Regions from separate parts of the Homo sapiens genome. Here region 2 is linked to region 1. The links come from fine-mapping of genetic effects on gene expression. A gene starts in region 1. The other region holds a variant in brackets. All regions are shown on one strand. Distances are between the middles of the regions.

Region 1 (16,524 bases):
AATTGAAAATAGTTTTAACTGAGTTTTATAATGATTTAAAAATTAGGCCACGCACGGTGGCTCACGCCTGTAATCCCAGCACTTTGGGAGGCCAAGGCAGGTGGATTGCCTGAGGTCAGGAGTTCCAGACCAGCCTGACCAATATGGTGAAACCCCACCTCTACTAAAAATACAAAAATTAGCTGGGCATGGTGGCATGCACCTGTAGTCCCTGCTACTAGGGAGGCTGAGACAGGAGAACCGCTTGAACTCAGGAGGCAGAGGTTGCAGTGAGCCGAGATCATGCAACTGCACTCCAGCCTGGCAACAGAGTGAGACTCCATATCAAAACAAACAAACAAACAAAATATGAATATTTTAGGTGTAGTATTGGTATTGTGGTTTTGGGGGAGTTGTTTGTTTTTTGCTTTCTTTTCAAGAGATGAGGTCACTTCATGTTGCTGAGGCTGGAGTGCAGTGACTATTCCCAGGTGTGATCATAATCCACTGCAGCCTCTTACTCCCAGCCTCAAGCAATACTCCCAACTCAGCCTCGGGAGTAGCTGGGACTACAGGTGCGAGCCACCATACCTGACATTATTTTTTAATTGTGGTAAAATATAAATAACATAAAATTTACCATTTAAAACATCTTAAGTGTACAGTTTTAGTGGCATTAAGTACATTCACATTGTTTTGCAACCATCACAACCATCGATCTCAAGGACTTTTTCATCTTCCCAAACTGAAACTCTGTACCTGTTAAAAAAATAACTCCCCAATCTCCCCTTCCCTTGGCCTCTGATAATCACTATTCTACTTTCTGTCTGTATGAATTTGACTATTCCGGGCACTTCATATAGACCGAAGCATACAAGCATTTGTTCTTTTGTGCTGGGCCTATTTCATTTGGCATAAGGTCTTCAAGGTTTATCTACATTGTAACATTCTAATGTGTCAGAATTTTATTACTTTTTAAGGTTAAATATTCCATTGTACGTATATTCCACATATTGCTTACCCATTCATCTGCTGATGGACATTTGAGTTATGTTTTAGAGTTCACATCTCTTTACTGAGATGCATACTCAAATATTTTTAAATTAAATTATAAGGTATCTGATATTTGCTTCAAAATAGTCCTGGCTGGGACGAAAAAGCAGTGGGACAGGGAGATAACAGATGAAATGGGATATAACTTTTCACTTATGAGAGCAGCAAAGATCAGAAACACTGATACCACCATATATACTGCCAGAATATGGGGAAACAAATTGTTTCATACATTGTTGGCAGGAATGTAAATTAATTTCTTTGGAGGGTTCTATCAAAGTTGAATTTGCAAATTTCCTTCAACCAAGATATAACTTCTAGGAATGTATCCTCATACATAAGCTCACACACATATGAACAAGTGTATACAAGAATACTGACTGCAACAATGTTTACAACAGCCCAAGTCTGGAAACAATTTAAATGTCTATCAGTAGGGACTGACCGCAAAAATCATAGTACATTACAAAAACATGGAAATACAATGAAATACTATTTAACTTTAAAAATGAAGCAGTTCTACTTTTGAGATAGTATCCATAAATATGTTAAGGGGAAAAAAGCAAGCTACTGAAGAGAGTAACACTATTCAACCAGACATTCACGTGGTTCAATTTCTGGCTACCACAGATCAGAAAACCTAAAAACCTCCCACAACACAGGCCAGGCACCACACTGTGGCTCACGCCTATAATCCCAGCTCTTTGGGAGGCTGAGGCAGGTAGACTGCTTGAAGCCAGGAGTTCAAGACCAGCCTGGCCAACATGGTGAAATACCATCTCTACAAAAAATACAAAAAGAAATTTAGCTGTGTGTGGTGGTGTGCGCCTACAGTCACAGCTACTTGGGAGGGTGAGGTGGGAGATCACTTGAGCCTGGGAGGTAGAGGCTGCAGTGAGCTGTGATATCACACCACTGCACTCCAGCCTGGGAGACACTGCGAGAACCTGTCACTAAAAAAAAAAAAAATCTAGAAATGCTGGATAAATTATAACTAATCTCTTTTAAACACATAAGTAACCTTAAAAGAAAAGGAAATTTCTTACTGAGGGGTAGGATGGAGAAAGGCACCTTTACTTTTTACTTTATCCACTTATTTTTATGTTATAATCAATGTGTATTACTTCTGAAACTAAAAAAAGAATGAAAGCACTCTGAAAAAAGCTGCTATGGATTTAATAATCAATGCCACCTCATGAGTAACTAAAGCAATGTAATCTTACAGTAACTTTTTGGGTATAGCAGCCACTTTTTTATCCAATTTAATTCAAAATTACTGACACCTCCTAAGTACAAGAGACTTAGTAGGTGCTGGCCTCTGGCTAATAGCAAAATGTGGTCCTTATCTTTTAAGGAGCTTAGAATATGTGAGGAAGAACAAGCAAGGAGACAAAAATATCTGTAATATAGGACAGAACATGAAACTCCTCATTCTCTGCACCAAAATTTGAGAACTAAATGTTTAAAATCCCAGTTTCCAGTTAGTATCCCATCAGAGCCCAAAACCAGCTAGTCAGACATTACAGTTGACCCTTGAACAACACTAGTTTGAACTACAAGGGTCCACTTATACAAGGATTTTTTTAACTAAACATGGATCAAAAATGCAGAATTCATGGGATCTGACACTCACATACATGAAGGGCAGACTTTTCATATAAGCAGCATTTCAGTATACCCTGAAGAGTGGGTGGGAGGTGGGTATTCTGGAACCAGTCTCCTATGTATACCATATACTGAGGAACGAGTGTATTTTAGACTTTCCATTACAGGTTATTTTGTTTTGAGTTCATCCACCCATAAAGCATTTTTTTTTTTTCCAGATGGAGTTTCACTCTTGTTGCCCAGGCTGGAGTGCAATGGCATGATCTTGGCTCACTGTAACCTCCGCCTCCTGGGTTCAAGCAATTCTCCTGTCTCAGCCTCCAGAGTAGCTGGGATTACAGGCATGCACCATCATGCCCAGATAATTTTGTATTTTTAGTAGAGATGGGGTTTCTCCATGTGGTCAGGCTGGTCTTGAACTCCCGACTTAAGGTGATCCGCCTGCCTCGGCCTCCCAAAGTGCTGGGATTACAGGTGTGAGCCACCACGCCCGGCCCCCATAAAGCATTTCTGACAATGACTGCACTTACTCACTAGTGGCAAAACTGTAGTTATACATACAGTTTTTTTGTTTTTTTTCCTGAGACAGAGTCACGCTCTGTCGCCCAGGCTGGAGTGCAGTGGCGGGATCTCACTCCAAGCTCACTCCAAGCTCACTCCAAGCTCCGCCTCCCGGGTTCACGCCATTCTCCTGCCTCAGCCTCCCGAGTAGCTGGGACTACAGGCACCCACCACCACGCCTGACTAATTTTTTGTATTTTTAGTAGAGACGGGGTTTCACCATGTTAGCCAGGATGATCTCAATCTCCTGACTTCGTGATCTGCCCACCTCGGCCTCCCAAAGTGCTGGGATTGCAGGCGTGAGCCACCGCGCCCAGCCACATACAGTTATTAGCACACAATTTCCATAGCCTTTGTGATTTCATCCCACAAATGAATCCTCAATTGTTTTCTTCCTTTGGTTTGTATATCTGCTAATACTGCCACATTGATTATATCAATACTACTCAGTCAAAAATAACTAAATCCTCCCCACAGTTCTATAATTGCTAATTTGAAAATTAAATATAAATACAGCTGTGATAGATTCAAGATTCTTCTCCATCTCCAATCAAGAACATCCTACAGGCAACAGTCAGACACTGGTGAAAAGGATTATGGCACAGAAAGATTTATTCTCATTTACTAAGAGCACAAATACAGCTGAAAAAAAGGAATCCTTCCTCTAAAAGTGACTAAACCATGAAATTTACAAACTTATGGCAGTTAGAATAAAAACCCCAAAATCAACACACATTCAATCTTTGGCAATCTAAAGGGGTTTTTAAAATACCAAAAACTTAGAAAAGTTCAAACATTCTGTTCATGCCAGTGTAGTCCAGCTTTGCCCATGAGAACACTGTTACAAGCTGTTGATGATTTCCAGTTCTAAAAAGGTTCCAGAGGCAGTCTTTTAGGTTGCAGAGCTGGTCAACATCACCTATTTCTCTTGAGGCAGTAAATTAGCTGTATAGCCCAGGAAAATTACTCTATCCAATCCAAGCAGTTAGAAAAAATTCAGAGTAATTGCATGGCCACAATACTGTTTATTGTTCAATCTTGCCCTTTATGAAACTGGACATGGCAACTGCTGACACATACAGGCAATAGCTCTGGTTTCAGACAAAGATAATAATAAATCTTTAAATATTATGTATCCGGCCGGGTGTGGTGGCTCATGCCTGTAATCCCAGCACTTTGGGAGGCCGAGGCGGGTGGATCACCTAAGGTCAGGAGTTCAAGACCAGCCTGACCAACATGGAGAAACCCTGTCTTTACTAAAAACACAAGAAAAAAAAAAAATTAGCCGGGTGTGGTGGCGCATCCCTGTAATCCCAGCTATTTGGAAGGCTGAGGTAGAGAATCACTTGAACCCGGGAGGCAGAGGTTGCGGTGAGCCAAGATCGTGCCACTGCAATCCAGCCTGGGCAACAAGAGCAAAACTCTCTCTCTCAAAAAAAAAAAAAAAAAAAAAAAAAAAATATATATATATATATATATAATGTACCAACTCATAGAGGGTTGCCAGACTGGGAAAATAATACTTACCTATGAGACACCAGTAAAAGCAAATACCATGAGGTTAGGATGTTGACTGTCTATAGCCTGGATGCCCTAAAACTGTATGAATACCTTCAAAGAAACTCACTGACATATTTCTGGTAGTACACTGAAGCATCACAAGCGATCAGACTTCCATCTCATCCACGACAACCTGATAATTACCACTGTATTCCAAAAGTCAGGAAAGAATCAGTGTTATTTCCTACCTTCAGGTTCTCTGGAGGCTTTCCTAAATGCTAACCCAGTCCAAGAAGTAAAAATGTCTAAATATCAGTAAAGGATTGCTCCAACTCCTGTTTTGATGTGCCTCTTTAAAACAAAACAAACAAAAAAAGTTTAAAAAGAAAGAAACAAAGGCCCAAATAAGAATAGCATATTAAGGAAAAAAAAAAAGATAAAACATAGAATTGAAAAGAAAAACCAGTAAGAATGCTATTTAGTAGGGGCAGTAAAGAGAAATGGTTGATTAGTCTGGCTCCAGAGCCCTGGAGCCAGCATGCCTAGCTTACTGCCTGTGTGAACTTGAGCAAGGTTTTTAACTCTGCCCTACTTTCCTCTTCTGTACAATGAGAATAATAAAAGTAATAATCTCAGAGTCAAAGAATAAATAAGTTAAATCACATAAAACAGCTAGAATTTGGCCACTTTTAACCAAATAGATAAAAGTCCAAAATTTTACTACTACTCTGTTGATGAGGCTGTTGGAAAACAGGCAGTCTCACAGAGTAATTAGTACTAAGCCTTAGGGAGGGCAATTTGGAAATCACACTTTTGAGAATTTATCCCACTGACTCTCTTGACCAGGTGGGGAAAAGACAGATACACCACGTTTTTAATTTTATACTGGAAAGCCAAATGCCCATGAAGAGACATTAAATCAAGAATGGCAAATTCACACGCACAAAAAATAAAAATAAAAATAAAAAAAGAAATTAAAGAATGGCAAATTGAAAACATGGAACACTATGCAGCAGTTTTTTTAAAAAAATAGAATGACGACACTGATTTTTTAATAGGAAAAATACATCTAAGATAACCAAAAAATGCAAGATGTAGAACAGTGGAAAGTATGTAACCCTTTGCATAAAAAGAGACTGAAAAACTAGGAAACATCTTTGCTTGTTCTGCACCAAGAGAAACTAAGCGGGAAGGAACTGGACAGATAGAAGACTAGATGTGAGAAAAACTTCCGTGTGTGTGTGTGTGTGTGTGTGTGTGTGTGTGTGTGTGTACTTTTTAGCTATATATTTTACCTATTCAAATATTAAATTTTAAAAAGTACTTTTAAAGTATCAGACATACAGTTCAAGAACTCAAATGTTGGCCGGGCGCGGTGGCTCACGCCTGTAATCCCAGCACTTGGGAGGCCGACGCGGGCGGATCACCTGAGGTCGGGAGTTCGGGACTAGCCTGACCGACATGGAGAAACCCTGTCTCTACTAAAAAAATACAAAATTAGCCAGGCGTGGTAGTGCATGACTGTAATCCCAGCTACTTGGGAGGCTGAGGCAGGAGAATCGCTTGAACCCAGGGGGCGGAGGTTTCAGTGAGCCGAGGTCGCGCCATTGCACTCCAGCTTGGGCAACAAGAGAGAAACTCCGTCTCAAAAAAAAAAAAAAAAAACTCAAATGTTAGCTGCAATTATGTTGTTATTATTATTAGCAAATTCAAAATACCTCCTTTCTGAAGACTTTTTCTTACTCCCTCTGCACAGAAACCTCATCTCCCTCCTCTAGCTACCAAGTTATTGTTTAAGGAATTTATTACTTTCTACTCCAGTGCAAGTAGAGTAAGGGGTTGGTCAATGTTTCATTCATTTTTAATATCCAAGAAGCCTTGCTTGCACATAGTAGGTACAAACATTTTGGAGTAACAGTAACCTTACAAGTACTCCGAAGAAAAAGGTGACCATTTATAAAAAGATTGTACTCTGTCATTAATCCTAAGACCTGAAAATTGAAGAAGTTTAATAACTGATAGCAACCTGTAGTTGCTAATATTCTTTCAACTACTGCCCATCCAAAATCGCCCCTTTCACTTTTTCCTTTTTTCTCAGACTGTCCCTGACATTGACATCATGTTCCAAGCCACGACCCTACATGTACCAACTCTCTGTAACTCACTGCAAACTCTGAAATGTCTTTTCTCATAAGTCCCAACATCTGATGCATCGCTTCTGTCAAAAGGGCATTTGTTGTCTCCTTTTAGACAGAGGTTCACGTATCAGTGAGTGAACAAAGTGCCCTTAACTGGAGAAGACCTAACACTTGATTCCTGGTTCGCTCAGTATTTTGTTTGTTCTCCTGGTATGGAGGGTATTCTGTAACTGACTGCTCAGTAGCCCAATTCTAAATGTCATTCCAGCATACCAAATAATCCACTGACAGCTCAACAGTCACTTTTCATGCAGGCCCCTCCCCTTCCCTCCTCCCTCAACCCTCAAGAGCTCCTTCTCTCACAGTGACAGACACACTGGCAGTTCAGAAGACCTTTTCCTCAAGCGTCCTTCCCTGCACGTACAAGACCACCTCCCCAGCTCTCATCATCCCGCGAGCCAATACGGTCCCCAATAACATCCCCTCCCAGCCAATCCAAATCACAACCTAAGTCTCTTCCCAAGAACCAGGCTTTACAGCCTTTCCCAACAAGTACACACTTGACAGCTCGACACGAGCTTCCCCAAAAATCATTTCCCCTCACTCCCCTCCTACCCCATACACTGGCTCTTTTCTCGCTATCATTTACCCACCCTGGCTTCCCCAAAATTCACAGCCCGGTTTCCTAAACATGCTCTCCGCTCTCCTCTCCCCTCCTTCTCCTCCCCACCCCCTTTCCACCGCTGACAGCTCAGTCACCTCCATCCCCCTGTGGCTGCACCCTCCCCCGCACCCTCCCCTTGACAGCTCAGAGTGGGCTCCCAGTGCTCCGCTCCAGGCCCTCCCGCGACGTCCCCGGCCCAGGGTCGCCTCGCCCGCGGGGAGGGCTCCACTCACCCGCTCTCCCGCATCACGTTGCTGTCCCCGCAGTCGCAGGCGCCCCCGGCCTGGCTGCGGAACATGTTGAAGTCGTGTCCGGTGTGGTCGCCCTGGTGGAAGCACTCGGCGCACAGCGACATGCAGGGCGAGATGCCGCACGTCCGGCAGCGGTAGGCCACGAAGTTGGCTGTCCAGACCAGGCCGCAGAGCGCCGCGGGATCGTAGGCCCGCACCGCCGCGCAGAACTCGTCGTAGCCGCCGCCGCCCGCCAGAAGGCACTTACACCACTCCAGGGCCTCCTCCTCGGCCGCCCCCGGACCGCCCCCGCCTCCGGCCGCCGCCGCGTCCTCGCCGCCGGCAGCCGCGGCCAGCGGCCGCTCGGCGCTCAGCACCCGCTCCAGCAGCGCCTGCAGCTCCTCAGCACCTGCGCGGTTGTCCGGCCGGCTGAGGGCCGCCTTGAGGTGCGCGGCGGTGGCCGCCTTGTCTAGGGCCAGCCCCGGCGCGGGCAGCTCGGGCTGTGACGGCTGCTGGCCCCCGACGGCCGCCGCGGCCGCCGCCGCCATGATGAGAGCTCAGAATTTGGAGAGTCCAGGGCCAGCGGCTCCTCCAGGGAGAGTGAGGGAATAGACTGCTGCGATTGCTCGGCCCGCCCAACTCTCGCGATACCCGGAGCGTCCGCGCTCCTCCGCCCGCAGCCCCGCCCCTACACACGCCCCCTCGGGCTGCAGAGCCTTCCTCCCGCCCCTCTCTCCTGGGCGCCTGTGGACCAAGCTAGGCTCCCAACTTTCTAAGTTAAGAGCTACTGAAATAAAGTACTCACCTTATAGGAAATCTTTAATAAGGGCAATTATTTCTTTATTTGCATAGACTACAGGAATTATTCACATCATCTTTCAGATGTACTTTAGGCATCTGCATTTTGTCTGAGATGTACATTCCTACTGTTATCAAAGTCCAGCGGGCGACAGAATGAAACCCCAACTTAAGGAAAACAAAAACTGTAGGAAAAGCAATCCAAAGAAGAACAGAAGGCCAGGCGCGGTGGCTCACGCCTGTAATCCCAGCACTTTGGGAGGCCGAGGCAGGCGGATTACTTGAGGTGAGGAGTTTGAGATCAGCCTGGCTGACATGGTGAAACCCTGTCTCTACTAAAAATACAAAAATTAGCCGGGCATGGTGGCGCACGCCTGTAATCCCAGCTACTCCGGAGGCTGAGGCAGGAGAATCACTTGAACCCAGGAGGCGGGGGTTGTAGTGAGCCGAGATCGCGCCACTGCACTCCAGCCTGGGTGACAAAGCGAGACTCCGTCTCTAAAAACAACAACAACAACAACAACAACAAAGAAGAACAGGAGTGTTTCCAATCCATAACCTTGTGTTTGAAATGAATGAAACATAATTAAAACAGGTTATTCCTGGTCTTCTACATGAGTTAAGTATGTCACGATCATCATATAACAGTGATAAGTTAAATTTGCTCAATAATTTTACGAATCACTAAATTATAAACTAAATAAAACTTTATGTATTAACTTTACATGCTAAAACTTTGTATGTTTTAACTCATTTGATTCTCATAACAGATAACTTTGAATTCTGCTATTCCTAGAAGTAGCAGCCTCAGACACTTCTCTACTTCGTCATCGTCCATTCACTCTTTTTCTTCTTCCTATAATAATGCAAAGAGGTGTCCATCCACAGGCTTAAACGCAATCCTGCAATCCTTTTACTTAACCACTGGATCCTGCCTTCTCAGGATCCCAACTCCATCCAATATCCTCTTGCATTTTTAACCCCTCTCTTTCTATTAGCTCAATTCTTGTCAGAATTTGTCTCCTCCTGTCTTAAAAATAATTGAAAAAATAATAAAGCTTCCCCCATTACTAAGCATCCAACCATTCTTTTCGTAGGCCACCTTTCTCTTTCTCTTTCTTTTCTTCTTTCTTTTTTTTTTTTTTTTTTTTGAGACAGGGTCTCACTGTCGACCAGACTGGAGTGCAGTGGCGCAATTTCAGATCACTGGAAGCTTTGCCTCCCGGGCTCAAGCGATTTTCCCACCCCAGCCACCCGAGCAGCTGGGACCACAGGCTCGCGTCATCAGACCCAGCTAATTTTTGTATTTTTAGTAGAGACAGGGTCTCCTTATGTTGCCCAGGCTGGTCTCAAACTCCCGTCTCAAGCAATCCGCCCATCTCGGCCTCCCAAAATGTTGGGATCACAGGGGTGAGCCACCGCTTCCGGGGCCACGTTTAATTGTTCACATTTACTCTTTCTTCTTCCTAAATTTCCATTCGCTCCACAATCTGCTACAACTTAATTTCTGCTCCTACTTTATGAAGCCCGACCTCTTTCCAGTATTTGACACCACTACCTATTCTTTTATTTTCATTTCCACTGTCTTTTTTTTTTTGAGACGGAGTCTCGCTCTGTCTCCCAGGCTGGAGTGCAGTAGCTTGATCTCGGCTCACTACAAGCTCCGCCTTCCGGGTTCACGCCATTCTCCTGCCTCAGCCTCCCGAGTAACTGGGACTACAGGCGCCCGCCACCAAGCCCGGCTAATTTTTTTGTAATTTTAGTAGGGACAGGGTTTCACCGTGTTAGCCAGGATGGTCTCAATCTCCTGACCTCGTGATCCACCCACCTCGGCCTCCCAAAGTGCTGGGATTACAGGCGTGAGCCGCCGCGCCCTGCCTCTCCACTATCTCTTCTTTGGGTTTCTTTGACATCACCACTCCTGTGAGAATTGCAAGTGACACAAATGACCTAAAAATTGGGAAACAAAGTTACAATAAAATAAGGCATGAGAATGGAGAAGGAGGTAAAGGTGAATGGAGATCGCTACTTTTTGAGCCGAGACTTGGGAAACAAGAAGAGTCACTCTGGGCCATACAACAAAGTGACTGTGACTTTCTCTCCCGCATCCCTTTCACTCTGTCTTTCCCCATCCTTTGAGGGCCCGCAGGTACTCATGGCAAACTAGAGGGTAATGAGCACGCGACAGGCGGCGAGGACTGGCGGTGGGTCAGCAAGTAGCGCAGGCTTTGCAGGCGGAGGGGATGGGGCAATGAGGCCCCCAGGTGGCCAGCGGAACCCCGGCTCAAGATAAACGCTGCAGCTCGGCGCCGGGCCGCTGGGCGGCGAACGCGTGCGCGCGTGCGGCCTGGCGCTTCCGGCACCGGCCGAGGTGCGGGTCGCCTCCAGAGGTGCGTGGTCGTGGCGCGAGGGATCCTGAGGCTGCTCCAGCAGTGCGCCGCCGCCGTCTCCTGGGGCGGCTTGGGTTAGCCGGGAGGTGGGTCAGAGGCTCGCCCCGTGCCCTGCGTCCGGGCGTCTCCTTAGGGCGCGTCTTCGGGTCCGGCCAGCGGTGCTGAAAAAGGGAGAAGGTTGGGGGTAGGGAGGAAACAAGATCCCAGTTCAATAGATTTCTCCGCAGATCCTGTGCCTTCAAACCCTACGAGTCCATACTTTAAAACAAAATGAAGAAAGTAAGGCTTAAGGAACTAGAGAGTCGCCTGCAACAAGTGGATGGATTTGAAAAGCCCAAGCTACTTCTGGAACAGTATCCTACCAGGCCGCACATTGCAGGTAGGGCGGCTGGTTCACCACGCCCCGGCTTTCGGCGTTAGTCCAGTCTACTCTGTGATAAAAATAGAACAGTTATTTGGATACAGAGAATGTCTAGAGAAATTCTGCCCTAAGATCACCTGTCGCGTTAGAGAGGCCTTCCTTGACACTGCAGCTCAAGGCACACCCTCCACAGACATACACACTATCATTTTACTGTCTAGTTTTCTGCATATCCCTTAACACTGCCAGACATCTTTTTAATGTGTTTTTTTCTCTTCTCACATTACAATCTCTGAGGACAAGGAATTTGTTAGACTTGTTCATACTTGAATTCCCAGTGCCCAGAAGAGTCGCTGGTACTATTTAGGAGCTCAGTAAACATTTACTAAATAAGGATCAGTTTCCCATTGCTACTAATTGCCTACGCAAGGATTCTTGTGCTATATACTCTGCCCTAGAAATGAATACCAGAGTTGATAGTGGAATGATAGTTTAACAAAATCAGAGTATGTGCTGTGTAAAGATGAGCATGCATATTTTAACAGATTTTCTGAGCATTAGCATTGTTGCTTCATGCCAGATATTGATACTGGGAGTACAAGAGAGAATACAGGACAACATATATTTATGTTACCGAAGTCATTGGGAAACCTTAGGGGAAAAAAATTTTATTATTATTATTTTTTGAGATAAGGGTCTCACTCTGTCACCCAGGCTGGAGTGCAGTGGCATGATCACGGCAACTGCAGCCTTGACCTCCAGGACTCAAGTGATCCTCCTACCTAAGCCTCCCGAGTAGCTGGGACTACAGGCATGCACCGTCATGCCTGGCTAATATTTTTTATTTTTTGTAGAGACAGCGTCTTGCTATGTTGCCCAAGATGGTCTCAGACTCCTGGGCTGAAGCGATCTTCCCACTGGGGCCTCAAGAAGTGCTGAGATTACAGGCATGAGCCACTGAGGCTGGCTCCTTAGGAAAATTAATTTTCTGAGAGTACCTGCAAGGAGTTTTTTCCAGTTCCAAAATAGTTGTTTCTAAGTTGTCAATGAAAGTCAAGGAGAATACATGTGTATTTACACTTAACTCCAAGATACTGTCATGATTCCAACCAAAAATTCACACAAAACTACTGTGTCTAGGTTAAGACCAGTTTTCTCAAATAATGACTTACTAGTCTTCTGACTGTAGGTTTTTTTAGTGGAATCCAGTTTAAAAAATAATAACAATCTGGCCAAGTACAGTGACTCACCCCTATAATCCCAGCACTTTGGGAGGCCAAGGCAAGAGGATGACGAGCCCAGGAGTTCAAGATCAGCCTGGGCAATACAGTGAGACCCCAGCTCTTAAAAAAAAAAAATTAGCCTAGTGTGGTAGTATGTGCCTATAGTCCCAGCTGCTGATACTAAGGCAGGAGAATTGCTTGAGCCCTGGAATTTCAGGCTGCAGTGAGCTCTGATCCGCCACTGCACCCCAGCCTGGGTGATAGAGATAGACCCTGTCTCTGAAAAAAAACAACAAAAAACTTCTGGATCCGCAGGAATCAGTGGCCAACAGTCCTTGCTGGGTTCAGATATCTTCAGGGAAATATCGGTGGTGGTGGTATTCATGTTTGACCTTCAGTGTGTATCTAACACCCAGTAGTTCTATTATCAGGTCTCATTTGTAGATTATGAATATATATGTCTGTAGATCATGAGTATATGTGTCTAAAGGCTACATTGTGGAGCTTATGGTGCTTGTGTTCTGGTGACAAACTTGTTAAAACAAAGTTCTGTGGCTAGGCACAGTGGCTCATGTCTGTAATCCCAACACTTTGGAAAGCCGGGGCGGGAGGATCACTTGAGCCCTGGAGTTCGAGAGCAGCGTGGGCAATATAGTGAGAACCTGTGTTTAAAAAAAAAAGAAAAAAAAAGATTCTATGTCTTTGTGATGCTAATGCTTGTTTGATAGTGGTTCCTAGTCTTATAGATTTCACAGATAAGTAAAATTTCAAAACAATTTTGGAAATTGATAGAGTTGCCAAATTTATGTTGACAAAAAAGGATTTTTTTAAAAACTATTTACTCTTACCATTCTTTCTTAAAAATATTTCAGCATCAAAGAAAGAACCGATATGAGTATATGGCAATGTTTTTAACAAGCTGAGGAAAAACTAAACGTTTTGACTTTTTTTTATTTTACCTCAGAGACTGGGCACAGTTTTGTCATTCTTGGCATTGCTAGCAGAGACTATTTTTTGAGAAACACTGGTGGGTATTAGCTTCCTTTATGGTGCCTCTTACTACATACCAAATCATTACCCCTTATCTTTTACAAAAATAATCTGGAATGGCATTTGGGGAGGACTAAGTAATGCAACACAAGAAATTATTTTAGAAAGAGTCATTTGCACAAATTAGATTTTAGTCACCGGCTTGCTTACTTATTCTTTTTTTTTTTATTTTTTAGCATGTATGCTCTATACAATCCATAACACTTATGATGACATTGAAAATAAAGTCGTTGCAGATCTAGGATGTGGTTGTGGAGTACTTAGCATCGGAACTGCAATGTTAGGAGCAGGGTACGTAATGCAATATATGCTATTTGGGTATTGGGTGGCTTTAATAAGGAGCATCAATGGGATTAACTGAATTATATTTATGAGACTCCACAGAATGAGATATAGGGAGCAAAAATCTGATACTGAATACATTTTGAATGGGCAGAAGATCTAAACAAACTACAAAAATTAAATAAAAATGGTGAAAGCAGCAGTTCCTTTTATACAAACCTGAGTTTCCAACCCCTGCCGGGTTTGGAAATTATGCTGTTACACTTGACTGGGCACAGTGGCTCATGCCTGTAATCCCAACACTTTGGGAGGCCAAGGTGGACAGATTACTTGAGCCCAGGAGTTTGAGACCAGCCTGGGCAACATGGTGAAATCCCATGTCTACAAAAAATACAAAAATTAGCTGGATGTGGTGGTGTGCGCCTGTGGTCCCAGCTACTTGGGAGGCTGAGGTGGGAGGATTGCTTGAGCAGTGCAAGATGGCACCACTACACTCACCTGGGTGGCACAGCAAGATCCTGTCTGAAAAAAGAAAAAAAAAAAGAAGAAAACACTCACTCTTACTTTGCTAATTGGGTTAAAAAGATATATGGTTTAAAAAAAAAACAGCTAATTTTGGTTTTGTTTTTACTTGGGAGCTATAAGTCGCCACTCTTTGTATGTGTTTTGTATTTATAGGTTGTGTGTTGGATTTGACATAGATGAAGACGCATTGGAAATATTTAATAGGAATGCAGAAGAGTTTGAGTTAACAAATATTGACATGGTTCAATGTGATGTGTGCTTATTATCTAACAGAATGTCCAAGTCATTCGATACAGTAATTATGAATCCTCCCTTTGGGACCAAAAATAATAAAGGTTTGTAACAAGAATCGGGTATATTGGTATATTTATAGAAAAGATTTTAAAACCATTTTTAAGGCCAGGCGCAGTGGCTCAGGCGTGTAATGCCAGTGCTTTGCGAGGCTGATACAGGAGGATCATTTGGGGCCAGGAATTGGTAGCCATCCCGGGCAACATAGTTAGACCCTGCCTCTACCCACACACACACACACACACACACAAATTTTAATTTCCCAAGTGTGGTGGTGCACCTATAGTCCTAGCTACTCAGAAGGTTGAGGTGGGAGGATCACCTGAGCTCAGGTATTCGGGGCTGCGATGAGCCATGAATGTGCCACTGCACTCCAGCCTTGGTAACAGCAAGACCCTGTCTAGAAAAAATTAAACAAAAATAAAAACCATTTTTATCACTGTTTGGGCTAAGTGATTTTATCACTCTTCATTAAATAAACCAAGGCTAAGTGATGTTATTACTCTTCATTAAGTAAACCAATCTCTTATTTGTATAGTTCTTATAATTTACATTTCAATTTGTTTAATGCATGGCTAAGAAACTGAGTTTTTCAACTTTCATTTTTACAAATTTGTATTAAGTAAACAAAGATAGTCATGTCATTTATTGTATATCTCCCATTTGCTTTCAGGAATAATTTGCCTAACCCTTATGAATGAATACGAAACATAGAAAGAATTTTATACTTTCAGAATCTGTTTTTTAATGTCTTAACAGACCCAAGGGTTTCTACATGTGCCCATCAGTAACAGTGACTCACCGTGGCTGTTAATTTTGTGTGTACTGTGGGCAAGGAGGTTAGGAAGTCAGTGAGGGTAGGAAAAGACATGCATAGTTTGGCCGGGCGTGGTGGCTCACGCCTATAATCCCAGCACTTTGGAGGCTGAGGTGGGTGGATTACCTGAGGTCGGGAGTTTGAGACCAGCCTGACCAACATGGAGAAACCCCGTCTCTACTAAAAATACAAAATGAGCCAGGCATGGTGGCACATGCCTGTAATCCCAGCCACTAGGGAGGCTGAGGCAGGAGAATCACTTGAATCCGGGAGGCGGAGGTTGCGGTGAGCTGAGATCATGCTATTGCACTCCAGCCTGGGCAACAAGAGCGAAACAAAAAAAAAAAAGACATGCATAGTTTAAAAAGTACCCTGCCCCCACCAAGATGATTCTGAATAGTACTCTATGCATTTCCTTCTCCCCTTTTTGAAGTCATTAATGTTGGAATATAATATTAAAATTTTTACTTTATCCTTATTTAACCAAGACAGTATAATTCTGGTTTTATTCTACCAGCCTTAAAATAATATTTTGATAGTTTATTTGTACCCTTATTGCTAAAAGATTTCAAGGTGGCTATTTTGAAGTTTGGAAGAAAATATTTCTAAATCCTACTAACTTAATCTTCTGTTTTGAGAAGAGGTAAATAGGAGCTTTTTTTCTACTCTTCACAGGGACAGATATGGCTTTTCTAAAGACTGCTTTGGAAATGGCAAGAACAGCAGTATATTCCTTACACAAATCCTCAACTAGAGAAGTAAGTTCAAATCATCTGATATTCTGTGGCATTGATTTTTAAATTCATGACAGTGTTTTTAGGATTTGCTGTGAATACTAGATACCACAGTATCTATTTCTCCTGACCATTTTGACATGTGAAACTTAAATTTTCCACTTAACCAGCTAGCATCTGATTGGCCTTTTTCCAGGCTATAAGACTTATTTCCTCAAAGATTTTTTTCAGACAGGAACTGTTGCCAGAGGAGAGACTATAACTCAGGAGTAGAAAAGTGTGTTGTAACTAGGATTACTGTATGTTTTGGTTTCTCTGAGTAA
Region 2 (16,524 bases), 260 kb before region 1:
GTTTTGTGTGAACATATTTTTTCATTCTCTTGGGTAAAGAGCCAAGAGTGGAATTGCTGGGTCATGTGGCAATTTTGTTTAACTTTTTGAGGGAACACAGCATCCTTTCACATACCTACCAGCAATGTAGGAGAGTCTAATTTCTCTACATCCTCCTCAACACTTACTGTTCATGTTTTTCATTAAAGCCATCCTAGTGGGTGTGAAGTGGTATTCCATGATGGTTTTGATTTCCATTTCCGTCATGATGAATGATGTTGAAATCTTTTCATGTGCTTATTTGCCTTCTGTATATCTTCCTTAGATCAAAGCATTCAAGTCCTTGGCCTATTGTTTAAGTGGGTTGTCCTTTTATTGTTGATAGGAGTTCTTTATTTTGGACATTAAGGCTTAGCAAATATATGATTTGAAAATATTTTCTCCCATTCTGTGGGTTGTTTTTTCATTTTCTTGATAGTGTCCTTTGAAGCACAAAAGTTTCAAATTTTGGTGAAGTCAAATTTTTCCTTTTGAAGGGTGGGGAATTGCTTGTGTTTTGTAGATTAGTGGTTCCCAAACTTTTTGGTGCCAGAGCCTGGTTTTGTGGTAAACAGTTTTTTCAGACTGGGGGGTTGGAGCGAGGGCATGGTTTCTGGATAATGCAAGCAATTACATTTATTGTGTACTTTATTTCTATTATTACATTCTAATATATCATGAAATAATTATTCAACTCACCATAATGTGGAATCAGTGGAAGCCCTGAGCTTGTTTTCCTGCAACTAGATAGCCCCATCTGGGGGTGATGGGAAACAGTGACAGATCATCAGGCATTAGATTCTCATAAGCAGCAAGCAACCTAAATCCCTCACATGCTAGTTCACAATAGGGTTCACACTCCTATGAGAATCTGCTGCCACCACTGATCTGACAGGAAGCGGCGATCAGGCAGTAATGGGTGCCATGGGGAGTGGCTGTAAATACAGATGAAGTTTTGTTCACAGCCACTCACCTCCTGCTGTGCAGCCTGGTTCCTAACAGGCCTTGGACTGGTATGGGTCCGTGGCCCAGAGGTTAGGGACTCCCTGCTTTAGATGTTATATCTAAGAAATGATTGCCTAATCTAAGGCAACAAGGACTTAAAACTATGTCCTAAGTATAATATTAACCTTCACCATTTTCTGAGATAATGCAAGGACTTTGGAACATCTATCCCCGTCTTATTACATTTCTGTTAAACACCAACATACATACATACTGAAATCCCATATAATGCAGTATCATAATCATTTTATGCAGAAAGTGTTCATTTAGTTATACTATACATATATTCACAATTTTTATTTTCTTGCCAAAATTTAATCTTCCAGCAGGGCTTATTTTCCTTCTGCCCAAAAACTCTTTTTGTGTTTTCCTTCCTTAGTGTGGTTATGCTGCTGTTACATTCTCTCCATCTTTATTTTAATGTCTTTATTTTGCTATCATTTTTGAAGAGTATTTGTTGTGTAGAGGATCTTCAGTTAAGAGTTATTTTCTTTCCACATTTTGAGGATATTTTTCTATTGCTCTGTTTCCAATGTTACTGTTAAGAAGACAGAGGCCTTTTGAGGTAATCCATCCTTTTTCCACTGAGCAGTTTTTAAGATACTTTTTATTCATTGCAGTTTCACTATTATTTCTCTAGGTATGGATTATTTTCCATTTATCCTATTTGTGATCTTTTGAACTTCCTGAATTTATGGTTCAATGTCATTCATCACTTCTGAAAAATTCTCAGCCATTATCTCTTCTAATATTGTCTCTGCCATATTCTCTCTCCTCTCCCTTCCTGAGGCTCCAATTACAAGTGTGTTTGGTGTTTTCACAGGGTGCTTTATGTCTTTTACCTCTTACTCCTTTTTCATCTTTTAGTCTCTGTGCTCTATTCTATATGCCTCCTTCTAATTTATAACCCAGTTTACCAAGTCTTTCTTTAGCTGTATTTCATCTGATAAACAGCTCCATTTAGTTATTTTTGGTTATCTTTTCAGGACTAGAATCTCTAAAATTTTTTCAAATAAAAAGTTACATGAGTCAAGTAATTATAACAACTGGAGTCCCTGTGATCTGTTTTTATTATTTTTCTATTGATTCTGGCTTTTGTGTATTGTCTCATCATGTTTGTTTACCTGAAACACTTTCAGAAATAGTTTGAGAATTAGGATGATGTCATCAGTCTCCAGAGAGGATATTTTTTTCCAGGCACTGGAGAGTAATAGCAGTCTGTGACCAAGATTTGATTTTGTTTTAGAGCTGGAGTACAATTAATACCTCCACTTCAACAGTCTAGTTGAAGTTTCCTCCAGTCTACTTGTGGTTAAATGAAGCCAATCTTTTAGTAGATTTTCACTGGAAAGACTGACATAGGCATACTTTAAACTATTTTTCTATGATCTGATACTTGAAGGACAGCATGACCTTACATAAAATCATTGGCTTACACTTTCTTTCCTTGAGGTGTTCTTGAAAATTCTGCTCAATTTTGCCTTGCTCTTGCTTGTGAAAAGTCTAATACCCAGTCTAATTCTCTCTGTAAGTCTTGGGAACTTGTCTTTATAGTTAAATAGTTTTTCTAGGGTATGTCTTGAAGTTTACTATTGATGATCAATTTTCCTGGTACTCTGTGGGCTCTTTCAATATGAACTCAGGTCTTTTTATTTGAGGAAAGCTTTCTTAGGTTATTGGTCTTTTCTAAAAAAACTTCCCATTTTTAAATAAATTTTAGATATACAGAAGAGTTGCATGAATAATGCACAGAGTGCCTGTATATCCTTGACTCTGCTTCCCCTAATATAACAATTCACAGAAACATAGCACAATCATCAAAATCAGAAATTAGCTAAATACTATTAACTAAACAACAGACTTTATTTGGATTTTGCGTTTTCTCACTATGATCTATTTTTGGTGTCAGGATTTTGTCCAAGATTTCACATTGCATTTAGTTATATCTCCTCAGTCCCCTACAGTCTGTAACAATTCTTTGATTTTTCCTCTTCTTTCACTTTGACACTTTCAAAGAGTACTGGTAAGTTATTTTGTAGAATGTCCTTCAGTTGACTTTTTCCTATGTTTTTACATGATTATAATGAAGTTATGCAACATTTGCAGTTATATTGCAGTAATGATACTATATAACTTCTCAGTGAATCATATTTAGGGGTTTATTAAGTCTTTACTGGTAATAATGAACTTTAATCACTTATCTATCAGGTTTCTCTTCTGTAAAGCTACAATCTTTCCCTTTGTAATTCATATGTACCTGGAGGGATGTACCACGAAACAATGCAAACCTGGTTCTTCAACTTTTGCCCACTCATTTGGCATTTTTTCTTCAGTAAGATGGGCCCCTAATGATCCCTCCTCCCCCCAGTATTTAGACTCTTGTGTAGCCTCCTACATGGTCTCTGGGTTGGCATGTTTGGCAGAAATAATATGCCACTTCTAAGATTAGGTGATAAAAGACACCGAGGCTTTCCTTGTAGGCATGCTTTCTTATGTGTTCTGTGTCTCCCTCTCTTGGGTCACTTCTTCTGTGGAAAATCAGCTGCTGTTGTTAGCAGCACTGTGGAGAGGCCCACATGGCGAGAAACTGAAGTCTCTGGCCAACAGCCATATGAGTGAGTTTAGAAACAGATTCTCCAACCCCGATCAAGCCTCTGATGACTGCTGCCGTGGCTAACGCCTTAATTTAGTCTTGTAAAAGACTCTGGGCCAGAATCACCCAGCTAAGCTGCTCCTGGATTCCTGATCCACAGAAACTGTGATGTAATGTGTACTGTTTCATGGCATTATGTTTTACAGTAATCTGAAACACAGCAATAGACAACTAATACAGTCTGAATCACTTACTCTGCCATTACTGGAAGCAACAGTGTCTATGTTCATTTAATCACCACATTAGCTATTGTTTCCATTGCACAGATAAGAAACCAAAGTGTGGCAGATATTGAATTAGCCACCAAAAAGCCACTCACAATCCTTTTTGCCTTTGGATTCCTCTAGCACAGCAGCTCGCAAGCTAAAATTACCGCCCCCCCCGGCCCCTCCAGATTTCCTCGCATTTTGTAGCGGCCACCTACCATTACTGACTAAAGAGGTGTATGTACAAGTGCACCAGGAAAGGGCTTCTCTTGTTGAGCACAGGATAAAGGCTTAGGAAAAGGCTTTTGGCCCATTTGCTTTTATCCTGCCTGGAAAATGAGGTGAGCTACTATCTCGCTTTCATCCTCATAGCAGCCTGGATATTAGCAGTCATCTTGCAGCCATGAGGATAAAACCTATAATCTAATGGTATGGAAAAGGAAAACAAGAGAAGCTGAGATCCATATTGATTCCCTTGAGCCGCAGCCCCTTCCTCGTATGTCTGCCTCAGCCTTTCTTTTGCCTGAAACCAATAAACTCCTTACTTCTTTAGGCCATTTCTTAGTCAGGTTTTCTGTGGCTTGAAACAGGACACATTCCTAATTGATATACTCATGTAAGGAGAAGTAACTCAAATGGTAAACAATACCATCGGACTAAACACAACATCTAATTAGAAGTAGGTTCTGGTGCAAACACGTCCAGGTGTCCTGCAGAAGTCCTGACCATGCCAGGGAGAGTAAGGAAATGTGTGTTCTACTCCTCCACTTTATTGCCAAATTTTCTACTTTGTAACCTCCAAAAGCCATGTTCTGGCTGCTACCCCAACCACGTCACCAAAACTATCCTCATCAAGGATATCAACTGCCTCCTTTGTCACAAAATCCAATGAATACATTTTGGCTCTTAACCTCTCCACAGAACTTGACACTTGTTGACTGGTTCCTTTTTTTAAAAAAAAAACATAATTCCTTCTAGGATTTCACATTCCAAATTTTCTCCTTCCTATCTGCGTCTCTCATAAATCTTGTCCTCAGGCTAACCATCTTCTGCTTGTCCTCTAAATGAAGATAGTATTTAAGGGTATTACCACAGGCCCTTTTCTCTCTGGATGAGATCCATTCCCACGGCTTCAGTTACAGTTTGTTGGTGATGACTCCCCTGAGCATCTACCCTTCAAACCCATCAATTATCACATCCCCATTTGGATGACTCACAAAAGCCTCACTTTCAACTGGTCAAAATCTGTACATATCACATTCAACTTTATACCTGGATAAAGTTGATTCTAGCTCATGAAATAACACAACCAACCATCAGGCCAGAACATAAGTGGTTTCTGTCACTGCCCTAGTATACATCATACACCATCCTCATCTCTCCTCTGGCTACTGAGTTACCCTCCTGAATGGTTTTCCCAAATGTTCCTGTTCCCCTCCTCTCATTCTCTTGGCCTACGGCCTGCTTTTGTAAATTAAGTCTTACTGGAACACAGCCATGCCCATTCACACACACACATACACATCCATATGCATATGTGTGTGTGTGTGTGTGTGTGTGTGTACGTCTAGGATGCTTCTGTATTATACTGGCAGAGATTAATAGTTGTGACAGAAACCATCTGGCCCTTTATAGAAAAGGTTTGCTGACTGCTGCTCTAAACTGAGGCAATAACCAAAATAGAAAAGGTTTGCTGACCTCTGCTCTAAACTGAGGTAATAACCAAAATAGAGGCCACAAAGCCCAACATCCATAACACTACTCAGGAAGCCATGATCTGATTCCTGCCTATTGTTCCTGCAACAGCTCTTACCACATGCTCTTCTGCTTTCTATGCTTCAACCATACTGTACTTCCTTCAGTTTCCTGAGTGCAACCCTCCTTATTCTTATTTCAGGGTCTATGTGCTGCACTCTTTAGAATGCCCTCCCCCATTCCCTCTTCACTTAGCTCACTTTTTCAGGCAGGTCTTGGCTTAAACATCATTTCTTCCATGTAACCTGTGAACTTCCCAAACTAAACGAGTCTACTGATTCCCATAGACTAACTTGCTGATAACATCCTATTGAACTGTAATCACATAATCAGTGTTGTTTTCCACCAGACTGTAGGCAGACACTGACCCTTTGTCTTGTTCAACGTGGGATCCCTATAACTTACTTTAGTATCTGGCACACCTTAGGCACTCAATATTCTTGGCCGTCCCTCATGTTACTGCATTCTGTCAACTCTCTTCAGATACTGTCCACATCTCTCTGTCCCGACCACAACTCCCCTACTTGAGCCAACTATCATGTTTTATCTGGAGTCTTTCAACAGATGCCTGGCAGGTTTCTCCACTCTAGTGGATTTTTCTCCAGAGTGCAGCCAGGTTGACTTTTCTAATGCAAATCTGATGTCACTCTACTATCTAAAGCCCTAAAATGCCTTCCCATTGCTCTCTAAAAAAGTCTAAAACCCTCAGCATGGCTTACAAAACTCTTTGTAATTTAGATTTTACCTCTCAAAAGCACCTATGCTTACAGTCAAAATGATTCCCTTTCACATCCACAAGTGCTCTCTCAACTCGTCGCAAACAATATTCTCTATGCCTGCCTGAATCACTACTCTCCACACTTGTTTCACCCAGATATCACCTACACAATATTTGGGAATCATCATCTCTCCCCACTGGAAGCCTCCTCATACACCCAAGTCTGGTTTAGAGGGTCCATCTATAGCACCTTCTACTCTACTTCTCTTCTCCTCCAAACACACATACCATTTGTAACACTAATCATACAGAAAGCGAGGTGAGAGAAGGGACTATCTGACTTCTTTTCCACTGTATTTCCAGTATTTATCATAGTGCTTGGTACACAGGAGGAGTGCAATAAATATTTACTAAATAAACGAATTTAAATGCTTCAACATTGCAGCAATTTTGCGTAAGTTCAAAAGAAAACTTTGAAAGAGTTCATTGTCTTACTAAATCTTATTGTGTCTTCCAATCCTACGCCCCTACAAATCCAACATGAACCCCACACTCATTTCAACCAGCTCCCCTAATTCTCTTAACTTATATTGCATCCTTTACATTTTGTATCCGTGTCTCCAAACCCCAGTTAATTTAGCAGTCTAATTTCTATCCTTCAGGTCCTAAGCTGCTAAACTCAGGGGCTCCACAAAGTTACAGAATCTTTCTAACTGGCTCCATTAAACTTAGGTTTTCTAACCCCACTTGGCTGTCAATATAACTTCAGTGGTGCTTCCCCTTATTTCTGGCCTGTTCTCTCTCCTAGCATATGTCTAAGCTTTTGCCACTTATCTCAAGCCCCCAGATATGCTAGGCCTGTTCACTCTCGGTACATGATCCTGCTCCTTTGTCACCAAGAGAAGAGGGAATCAGACACAAATCCTCTTATTTTGCTCTAGACTTTCTTTCCTTTTCTCTTGTATCTTTTCCCCTCAACCTGAAGCTTTTATCTGTGCTCTTGACCCCACTCCTTCTGGTCTGCTCTTGGGCTCTACCTCACTGATTTTGGTACTGTCACATCTTACATTAATTTAACTTGCACAAAGGCAGCTCTACACAAGGTTCCATTGTGTGTTTTCACTGTGTTGCATCAGCTGAAGTCACATTCATTCCACTACTTGTACTGTACACTAAGATGGCAGGTCATAGCTCTTCCATACCTGATATGCCTAATTAATAGGGAGCTTGAAGTGTCATAAATAGAGAAGTGATCATGTTGCTGTTTTGCCCACTCCAGCTCATCCCTGTTGAACTAAGCAGTGCTTGATATCATCTAGCCAGATCATAAGGCAGAGGAAAGAACTATGTGCTGTGAATGGGACTGAGACACAGTCATAAGTCATCTGCTCTCCCACAATCATCAATCATCAGGCATCCTCACCAATGAATTCATCTTCTCTCGGTGATTTGATTCTAGTGGTTAAAACCATGCTTTGTGTCCCCCCCAACCCCAAATATGATCTCAAATATAAGCCATCAACAGCCATTTGAGAGTCAGCAATTAGAATCCTGGAGATAATACAGAGAGTCTTAGACCACATCTCTTCCCATATTGCTGTTTCCTCTAAGCCTTCAGTGCTTTTAGTCAGCATCTTTTTCTAAGTCACAGAAATCAGTAAATATCGGAATACATAAAACAGAGAAAGGTCTGAAGAGAAATGGACTGCTAGCTGATAAATGGCTGGTGAGCTTCAGGATGGAGAGGTAGGGGTGAGGACTGTCAATTCAAACAAGAATGCAAACCACTCAAAATAAACATTCTCATAAAGCACTAAACATTTCTGAAGTCTGGCTGGGAACTTTCAGAAAAGAACAGAGATCACAATTCCTCAGATCTACATACCCATTTCCTTCTCCCCCTACCAAACACACACACTTAGCAAAGAATGTGCATTGATTATGAGACAAGGACTGAAGAAGCAAGAACTCACTCTGCAAATAAAAGAAAAAAAGCAAAGCAAACCCTTTACACTTACTCCACCCTAAAGCAACTACTAATTATGTTGTGCTTTGATCTTTTCAGCCATGTTCACTCACATATATTACTGTCAATATCTTTGGGGGAAAAAAAAACATGTAAGCAGTAAACATTTTAAGGACCTTTCACAAACCAAATGACAGCAGGTTTTTATTAACATATCTTACAATGTTGATTATTCCTAGTTTTGTAATTTCTGCTTAATTATAAAGATCAATTTAGCTTCTACAGTAATGTACTGTATTTAAATGATCATTCATACAAGATATCACACCAGTACATTTTTTTGAATAATATACACACATCACTCTAACTTGGACCTGTTATTTTTAAAAGTGGGTTTATAAATGGGACTTATAAAAGTTATGGGGAAAAATTAAAGTTCTAGTTTAGCAGCATGCATGTATGTATTCAAGTACAATTTTCAACCAAGTGCTTTTTTAAAATTTACTGGTGACTAATTCACCAATATCAAAATAAACACTATCAAACACCCAAATTTTAAAGTTAAGGCTAATATTTTCACTTCACATCCATATGCACAACCATAAAACATTCCATTTTAAATAAGTAGTAATCAAAGTCTGAATACATTATACCATGTATATATAGCATCAGAGTTTCAAACTGTAGAATTATTCAAGTTCATGAATCCTGTAACAGTATTTACTAGAGATGTCAATTAGCATTTTGCTCTTCAACCACACTTACAAATGGTCTGGTATTCATAACGATCAATGCAAAAAGTATGACAGGCTGAACTTATGATACAGTATTTAAAAAAGTAGCAATGTGTTGGAAAGGACAGCTATTTAGTCGAACAGAATCATTGACTCTTACAGAAAGTTATCTTAATATTTTGGAAATGTATATAAAAATAGCAAGCTATTTCCATGTATTTTATTGTAGAACGATAGGTAATCTTTTGACTTTCTGAATACATTTGAATATGTACTGCTCTGCTTTCCATATTTTAATGCAAGGCCATGATTTAATGTCCATTTTTATACTCTTGTAATGTCATGTCATTACAAAAATTTTTTAGAACATGGATCTGACATATTTTATCATTAGATTTGTTTAGTTTATTTTTACATGTAAAAATGTAATTTTATATAACAAGCCATGGAAGTCCAAAGTACCAGGGATTGCTTGATAGCACTATATATTAAATAATCATTCAATTACTGAATCATTTAGGAAAAAAAATCTTTGTAGCAATATGTCACATGCTTTTCAGTAATCTTCCTTCTCATAGAGTGGGTTTTAGCTCAATCATTCCCATTTTTACTGATTTTTAAACCCTGCAAACATAAATTGTTTTTCACAGCAGTTTCTAAGAAGAATGCAGAAGCGTGGCTCATTCATGAGGGTCATCACCACTG[C/T]GCCTTTTTTTTCCTTTTAGGAAACCGAGCAGAAATAGTAGTGATTACACTGCACAAATACAATATAGCTGAACCTCTTGAGCTGAAAGGAAGTTCCAAAATTTATGGTTCATTTCTGGGGAAGTCTGAGCATTTCTAATACAATCATATAAACAAAACCTTGTTTGGTAATAAAAGGTGGGCATGCACGGAATCAACATCTGCCCAGTGTATGTTCTTAAACCTCTTGATTTCATAGTAAGATTTGTTATTACCTCTAGTAATTCATCCAACTGAAATGGCAAATTTTGATTTTTAAGGACCCCCCAACCACACATATGCCCCCCAAAATGTACTGTATTATATTAACAGCAGCTATCTACTTATTTTACAGCTATTTCAATTATTTACCTGGGGAGAAGATTTATGAAATTCCTGAGAATGAATTCAGTTTTCAGCAAAGCTTTAAACTTTTAACAGATTCCTCACAATAAGAAAAAATTTTAAAGTTCTACTATTAGACCAACTTTTACTATACAGTATTTCACATAAATCATGTTTTACATTTTTTTCTAATTACATACAGAAAAATTCTCCAATCAACACAAGAATGGCAGAGGAAAAAAGATGCATTATGCTTGGCAGATGCAAATTAAAACACACAGACAGAAAGAAGCAGTAAAATGTCAAATAAATCACACCCACTCTAAGTATCAATGAATAGCTGATACGCATTGTTGGGAGAATCATTTCTGAATGAGTTTGTGAACAAGTTGTGCTTCTTATTAATTGTGCACTTAAAAAATGACCACTAAAGAATAATTTAACTTGTTATTAATGTTCTCCAGATATTAAAAAAAAAAAATTATACCATTAACGTGATTACCAAGCACCTAATTTTGGAAAGGCTTCATAATGTATGTTTTCTTTTTCTCCCTCAGCAAAAGTGTTAATCCCCCAAATTAAGTTAAAGCTTATTGTTGAAAAATAAATTCGTAGCGAAAATGATGATACGATGCAATGCTGAGGTGGAGAGTCACAGCCCATTGTAATGTGGACCCCATCTTTTATTGATGTGATCAAAAGTATGAGAAATCCACTGTTGCTCAAGAACTTTGTATCTTTCCTTACAAATGTAGAGAGGTTTGCCTCGCCTAGAACAAAAAGAAAAAAAAAGTATTAATATCATACACGGAAGATTTCACATGCATTTCTTTCTTCTTTTTTTTCTGAGACAGTCTCTCGCAGTGCAACCTCCGCCTCCTGGGTTCAAGCAATTCTCCTGTCTCAGCCTCTCGAGTAGCTGGGATTACAGGTGCTCACCACCATGCCTGCCTCCTTTTTTTATTTTTTTATTTTTTATTTACTTATTTCTTTTTTGAGACGGAGTCCCACTCTGTCACCCAGGCTGGAGTGCAGTGGCACGATCTTGGCTCACTGCAAGCTCCGCCTCCCGAGTTCATGCCATTCTCCTGCCTCAGCCTCTAGAGTAGCTGGGACTATAGGGGCCCGCCACCACACCCGGCTAATTTTTTGTATTTTTAGTAGAGACGGGGTTTCACCATATTGGCCAGCCTGGTCTCGAACTCCTGACCTCAAGTGATCCACCCACCTCGGCCTCCCAAAGTGCTGGGATTACAGGCGTGAGCCACCACACCTACCACATTTCTTTTTTTACTAGATTCTTTTTTGAGACAGTCTTTCTCTGTTGCCCAGGTTGGTGTGCAGTGGCACGATCACAGCTCACTGCAGCCGCCACCTGCTGGGCTCAAGCGATCCTTCCACCTCCTCCCGAGTTGCTGGGACCACAGGTGTATGACCACCACACCTGGCTTATTTATTTTTATTTTTTTGTAGAGATGAGGTCTCACTATGTTGTCCAGGCTGGTCTCAAACTCCTGGGCTCAAGCAATCCTGCTTCAGCCTCCCAAAGTGCTGAGATTACAGGTGTGAGCCACTGGGCCTGGCCAACGGATTCTTTGTGGCAAAAACCTCACATGGTAATTTGGTGTATTTCATGTTTCCTCAACGTATTGATAGGGACAATAGCTCAAAAACTAGAAATAGCTCTAAATTAATGACTGTCAGAATTTCTTAATATTAAAAAAATTGTAATTACAAAGCCAGGAATAGCATATTGGTTTTCACTGACCAAATTTCAATAAAACACCTGGATATATCCATGAACATCTAACCTAAGATCCCGGTCTTCCTCTCCATGAGCATCCAAATACACGGAACCCCAGAGGCAGAAGCGGTGACCTCGAATGATGATAATTACCGATGCATTGATCAAAAGGAAAATACCTGTTCCTGCACCACAGTTCTGAGAGTGCTAAAAAATTAAAAATATATTAATGAACTTCATAATCAAATAGGCTTTATAATAAAATCAAGAATATATTAATGCCTTCTAAATAATACAGTGATTTAAAAATAGTAAGATTTCATTTAAGTTAAACTTATAACTCCATTCCTAACACTTTATTATTAATACATTAGGAGGTATTTGGGTAAGGAATATCTAGTAAAGCAATTAAGAGCCAACCTAATTCAGAGTCTAGTATCTTCAACAGCACAGATGACTTCTGTTTCACAGCACATTCCAAAGTACATACCATTAAAGGGATAGTAGATGAAAGGAGAACTAGAATTGTACTTAAGGAAGGATTTACTCACTTAAAGCCTCAAAGACTTTCTTTTTTTACTCTTCTACTGGATTAAAAAACACACACAATCCCTATATGTATTATATACTTAATTCAAAGAGTAGTTAATATGAAGAGATGGCTTGACCATATTTTGTGATATGAGATCTGTGTTTTCATAAATTTTGTATTATCTACTATTGCTTACCAGTACACATTCACAGTAACTTTGTTGCTTGCAGCAAAGTCCTTTCAGGCATACAAAAGTACCACACACAAGGCAAACAGCAGGATCTTTAGGAACCTTGGTGCAGACACTACAGGTTTTTCTGTGGTAGTACTGAAAAATGGTGTTATAATTCTCAGGCAACTGTAGTAGGTGTGGTAATTTCCATTTTGACTCTTGGATAAGCAAGGCCTAAAACATTATCCAAAAATATTCATTAGTTTTATGTATTTAAGTCACTAACACAATATATTTTTTAAATGTATTTTTACAGAAAGAAAAATCTGCCTCCAAGAATGTGGCTTATTTTCTTTATTAACACTCCTCTCATTTCCATCTTATACATGACTAAAATAGTAGTTCAACAGTTACCATTATCTAATGTATTATAGTTTCCAATTACAGTATGATTTAATTTTTTAGATTAAGCACCTTAAAACATTTAAACTTGTTATTACTTTAAAAGAAAAACACCATCTCTAAGCATGCAGGGAAAATACATCTAATTGTATTTGACTTTAAACATGCATAGTGCAAAGGTTTTTAAAAGTTACGTATTTTTTAAAACCAAGTTTTGATCATTCTCAAACAATTCTTTAGCTTTTTCTTTAGGACAGATCATGGTTATAACTCATTTTTTCTACTTTAATACTTTATAATGTAGAATTGCTTTCCTAGAGTATGTACAATTCATTGCACCTCAAGCTGTTAAGATCTTTTATATCCATAAGTGCTGGGCTACAATTCTTTTCATAAATGTCTTGCTATAAGAATAAAAAAATTGTCAAATTAGTTAAATTTCCCTGAAGGGTATGCTTTATTAACTATTTGCAGCTGTATAAAAATACTGGCAGCAGCACTAAATTTTTCTAGATGCTACTCCATTCACACTTAAAAAAGATAAAATGTAGAGTGAGTCTATTATCTTAAGAAACTGTAAGTAATAGTCAATTTAAATGGAGATCATCTCACATTACCTACATGCAGCCATAATCCACCTAAATCAGTGGAGTAACTAAGCTAGCTTGTTCCTCATCAACAAGTTCATGGATTAAGTGTCCATGGAAGCAATGATAAGAACAGTATACAATACATCATTTGCCAATACTCAGCACCCAACCCTGGACTCCAAGGATGGCATTCTGTAATGAGTTGATTACAGTGGAACCCTTCCATTAAAGGGAAGGGATAACAATTTGTCCTCACTGAACTTGACACTTATTATAGGTTAGGCTGCATGTTATCCAGTAGCCCATAGCACATTACCTCCAATAATTTCCCTCATGAAGAGAGATGTAAGGCAACAGGTGGATGTCCATGGAATTCACTGATCTTAACATATATTCAATCATCTGAAAAAAGCTGTGGTATTTTAAATCATGAACTACAAAACTGATTTTTTCAGTGCCACAAAAATTATGAAATTCATGAAATTTACAAACTTTTAGATGGCACCAGCTGGAAGAAATCACCTACAGAATGTGTATGCTCTAAACAGCAACCAGTATATATGGGTGACCTTTTTCACAATTGGAATGCATATGTATGGGAAACAAGAGGTGGAAAGTATTTAACAGCTGTAACACCTCTCATGATTACACCTAAAATTCGGTCTTGCCTTTCCTGTTGCGGCCTGTGTGGAGTTCACTCGTGGGTCTCTGAGACCCAAAAATTGAGAGCATTTTCGCACCCCAGGGGCTGCGCCTGTGCCATGCCACAGATCAAATATATTGAATTACACTGTAAATGCCATGGATATCATTTGGATTACCATGAGAAAAAGGGAAAGAAGGAAAGTTGAGAGGCTTATGAACATTCAAAGAAGTCAAAGAAAATGATTGGTCTGAAGGCTAAGCTTTATCTTAAACAGCACCATGCTGAGAAAATACAAATGAAAAAGACCATCAAGATGCATGAAAAGAGAAACACCAGACAAAAGAAAGACTCCACAGGGAGCAGTACCTGCCTATCTGCTGGACAGAGAGGGACAACCTCAAGCTAACGTACTTCCCAGTATGATTAAGCCGAAATGAAAAGAGAAAGCAGGAAAATGGAAAGTCCCTCTGTCTAAATGTAACTTGCCCAGGGAGATACAGAAGTGTTAAGAGTTATTTGAACAGAGCCAGGTGCAGTGGCTCATGCCTGTAATCCCAGAACTTTGGGAGGCCAAGGTAGGCAGATCATTTGAGGTCAGGAGTTCAAGACCAGCCTGGGCAACATGGTGAAACCCTGTCTTTACTAAAAATACAAAAATTAGCTGGGCATAGTGGCAGGCGCCTGTAATCCCAGCTACTCAGGAGGCTGAGGCAGGAAAATCACTTGAACCCAGGAGGCTGAGGTTGCAGTAAGCCAAGATCGCTCTACTGCACTCAAGCCTGGGCAACAGAGTGAGACTCTGTCTCAAAGTTATTCCAACAGGAAAGAGAAAGACGCAGGCATAGAGGAGGATGGTTACTAAAGTCTGCTTTGTTGGAGATGGCTTTACAAGAAAACTACTTATCTATGGAAGATTCATCAGGCCAATGGGCTTGCGTTTCAAGAAAGCCCATGTAACACATCCTGAACTGAAAGCCACCTTTTGCCTAACAATACTTGGTGTAAAGAAGAGTCCCTCATTCCCAATGTATATAACTTTGGATGTTATTACCAAAGGTACTGTTACTGAGGTGAATGTGAGTTGGGCCTTGTGACACAAGGAGGCAAGGTTATTTGGGGAAAATAGGCTGTGGTTACCAACAATCCTGAAAATGATGGATGTATAAATGCAGTCTTACTGGTCTGACAGCACTTTCATAGATATTTATTGAAGACTACACACCAACTGAAAAAACTGCCATTACTGTGATGTTTCTGAATACTACCAAACAGCCTTACATGTCTGCAATCAAGAGATTTATTAAATTGTAAACATTAAAATGGAAAAAAAAATTCGGTCTTAAATTTCTGCTTCACTGCTATTCCGGACTCTTCTGCGGATTTACAAGCTATGTACTGTCTAACCTCTAGTACGGTTTATAACATCACAAGGGTGGCTTATCGCATTGCCTGGAGGGATTGACCATGACTATCAAGAAGAATAAAAATATTGCCATACAATTGGTAGAGCAATATTTTGGAACTTAAAAACCCCTACCACCACCCCTACCATAGACCAAGCTTGAAAGGCAGAAATTTAACACAGAATGATTACAGCCTTATAGAAACAAAGACAGGACCAATCACCAGAAGCTCAGCCCTTTCAGAATAAAGTTTGGTATCACATCCTTGCTCAAACAAATCCAATCATCCGTTGAGGTGTGCTGGATCACGGATGGTAAAAGAAGAAAGTCATATATATTTGACTGTATATTAGCTGCAGCTTTATGACTACTTGCAAATCTTGCTTACTGTATCATATATCTTTGCAACATTTTCATTCTCTTACTATTGAATTCAGGGTGAGCAGGTACTAATTAAAATTTTCCAGGCCATCTGGGTGTGAGTACAAATGACAGGAACAATGGACATCTCTCAGAGCTACTGGATGCAGAGAGGCCTGATGATGTAAGGACTATATGTGACATCAGGTTGCTTATTTGGGAAAGTCACAGATGCATTTGCAGTCATAAGTAAAATGGTTACATCATTTTCAACAGCAGAAGTGAAACTGTGAATGAGAAGAAGGGTGTGTATGAGCCAGGCAGGTAAGATGTGAAAGTAGTGGGCCACTAGTTTGTTTTTTAAATCCTCCTAGCATCCTTTGCTGCTTTCTTATATTAATAACATTATAAGTTCTTTTAGAAAATAACCCCTTTTCTTGCTCCGTACAGTTCTGATGGGGCTGTCCCCAACACAAGATCCTGCCCCACCACTGGGGTATATGTATTACAACAGTTAGGCCAACCAGATTCTCTCTCCCAGGAATCTGAACC

Which allele goes with the higher level. Alleles are on the strand shown, and positions count from the first base shown. SD is a standard deviation of normalised expression in the study named.
For the expression in monocytes of the gene that starts at base 8,332 in region 1, T is the low allele of the variant in region 2 and C is the other (moderate effect, 0.61 SD a copy in Fairfax 2014).

The links.
Region 2: its variant is fine-mapped to the expression of UBR3 in monocytes (Fairfax 2014, PIP 0.95).

What each region holds. Positions count from the first base shown.
Region 1 is chr2:169,819,262-169,835,785 of GRCh38, reverse strand. UBR3 (ubiquitin protein ligase E3 component n-recognin 3) reads right to left here and starts at 8,332. Exons shown (of 39, transcript NM_172070.4): 1 at 7,734-8,332. The coding sequence starts at 8,278. METTL5 (methyltransferase 5, N6-adenosine) reads left to right here and starts at 10,881. Exons shown (of 7, transcript NM_014168.4): 1 at 10,881-11,297; 2 at 13,729-13,843; 3 at 14,513-14,694; 4 at 16,143-16,225. The coding sequence starts at 11,189. RefSeq lists enhancers at 5,570-6,069, 6,070-6,571 and silencers at 7,589-7,718, 7,979-8,538, 10,132-10,335.
Region 2 is chr2:170,076,095-170,092,618 of GRCh38, reverse strand. UBR3 (ubiquitin protein ligase E3 component n-recognin 3) reads right to left here. Exons shown (of 39, transcript NM_172070.4): 37 at 12,596-12,805; 38 at 11,935-12,074; 39 at 8,488-10,893. The coding sequence ends at 10,776. It also overlaps the pseudogene NSA2P5. Among named protein-coding and RNA genes, the nearest start is that of MYO3B, 94 kb to the left of the region's middle. RefSeq lists enhancers at 657-1,224, 14,064-14,843. The variant C/T (reference allele first, on the strand shown) is at 9,761.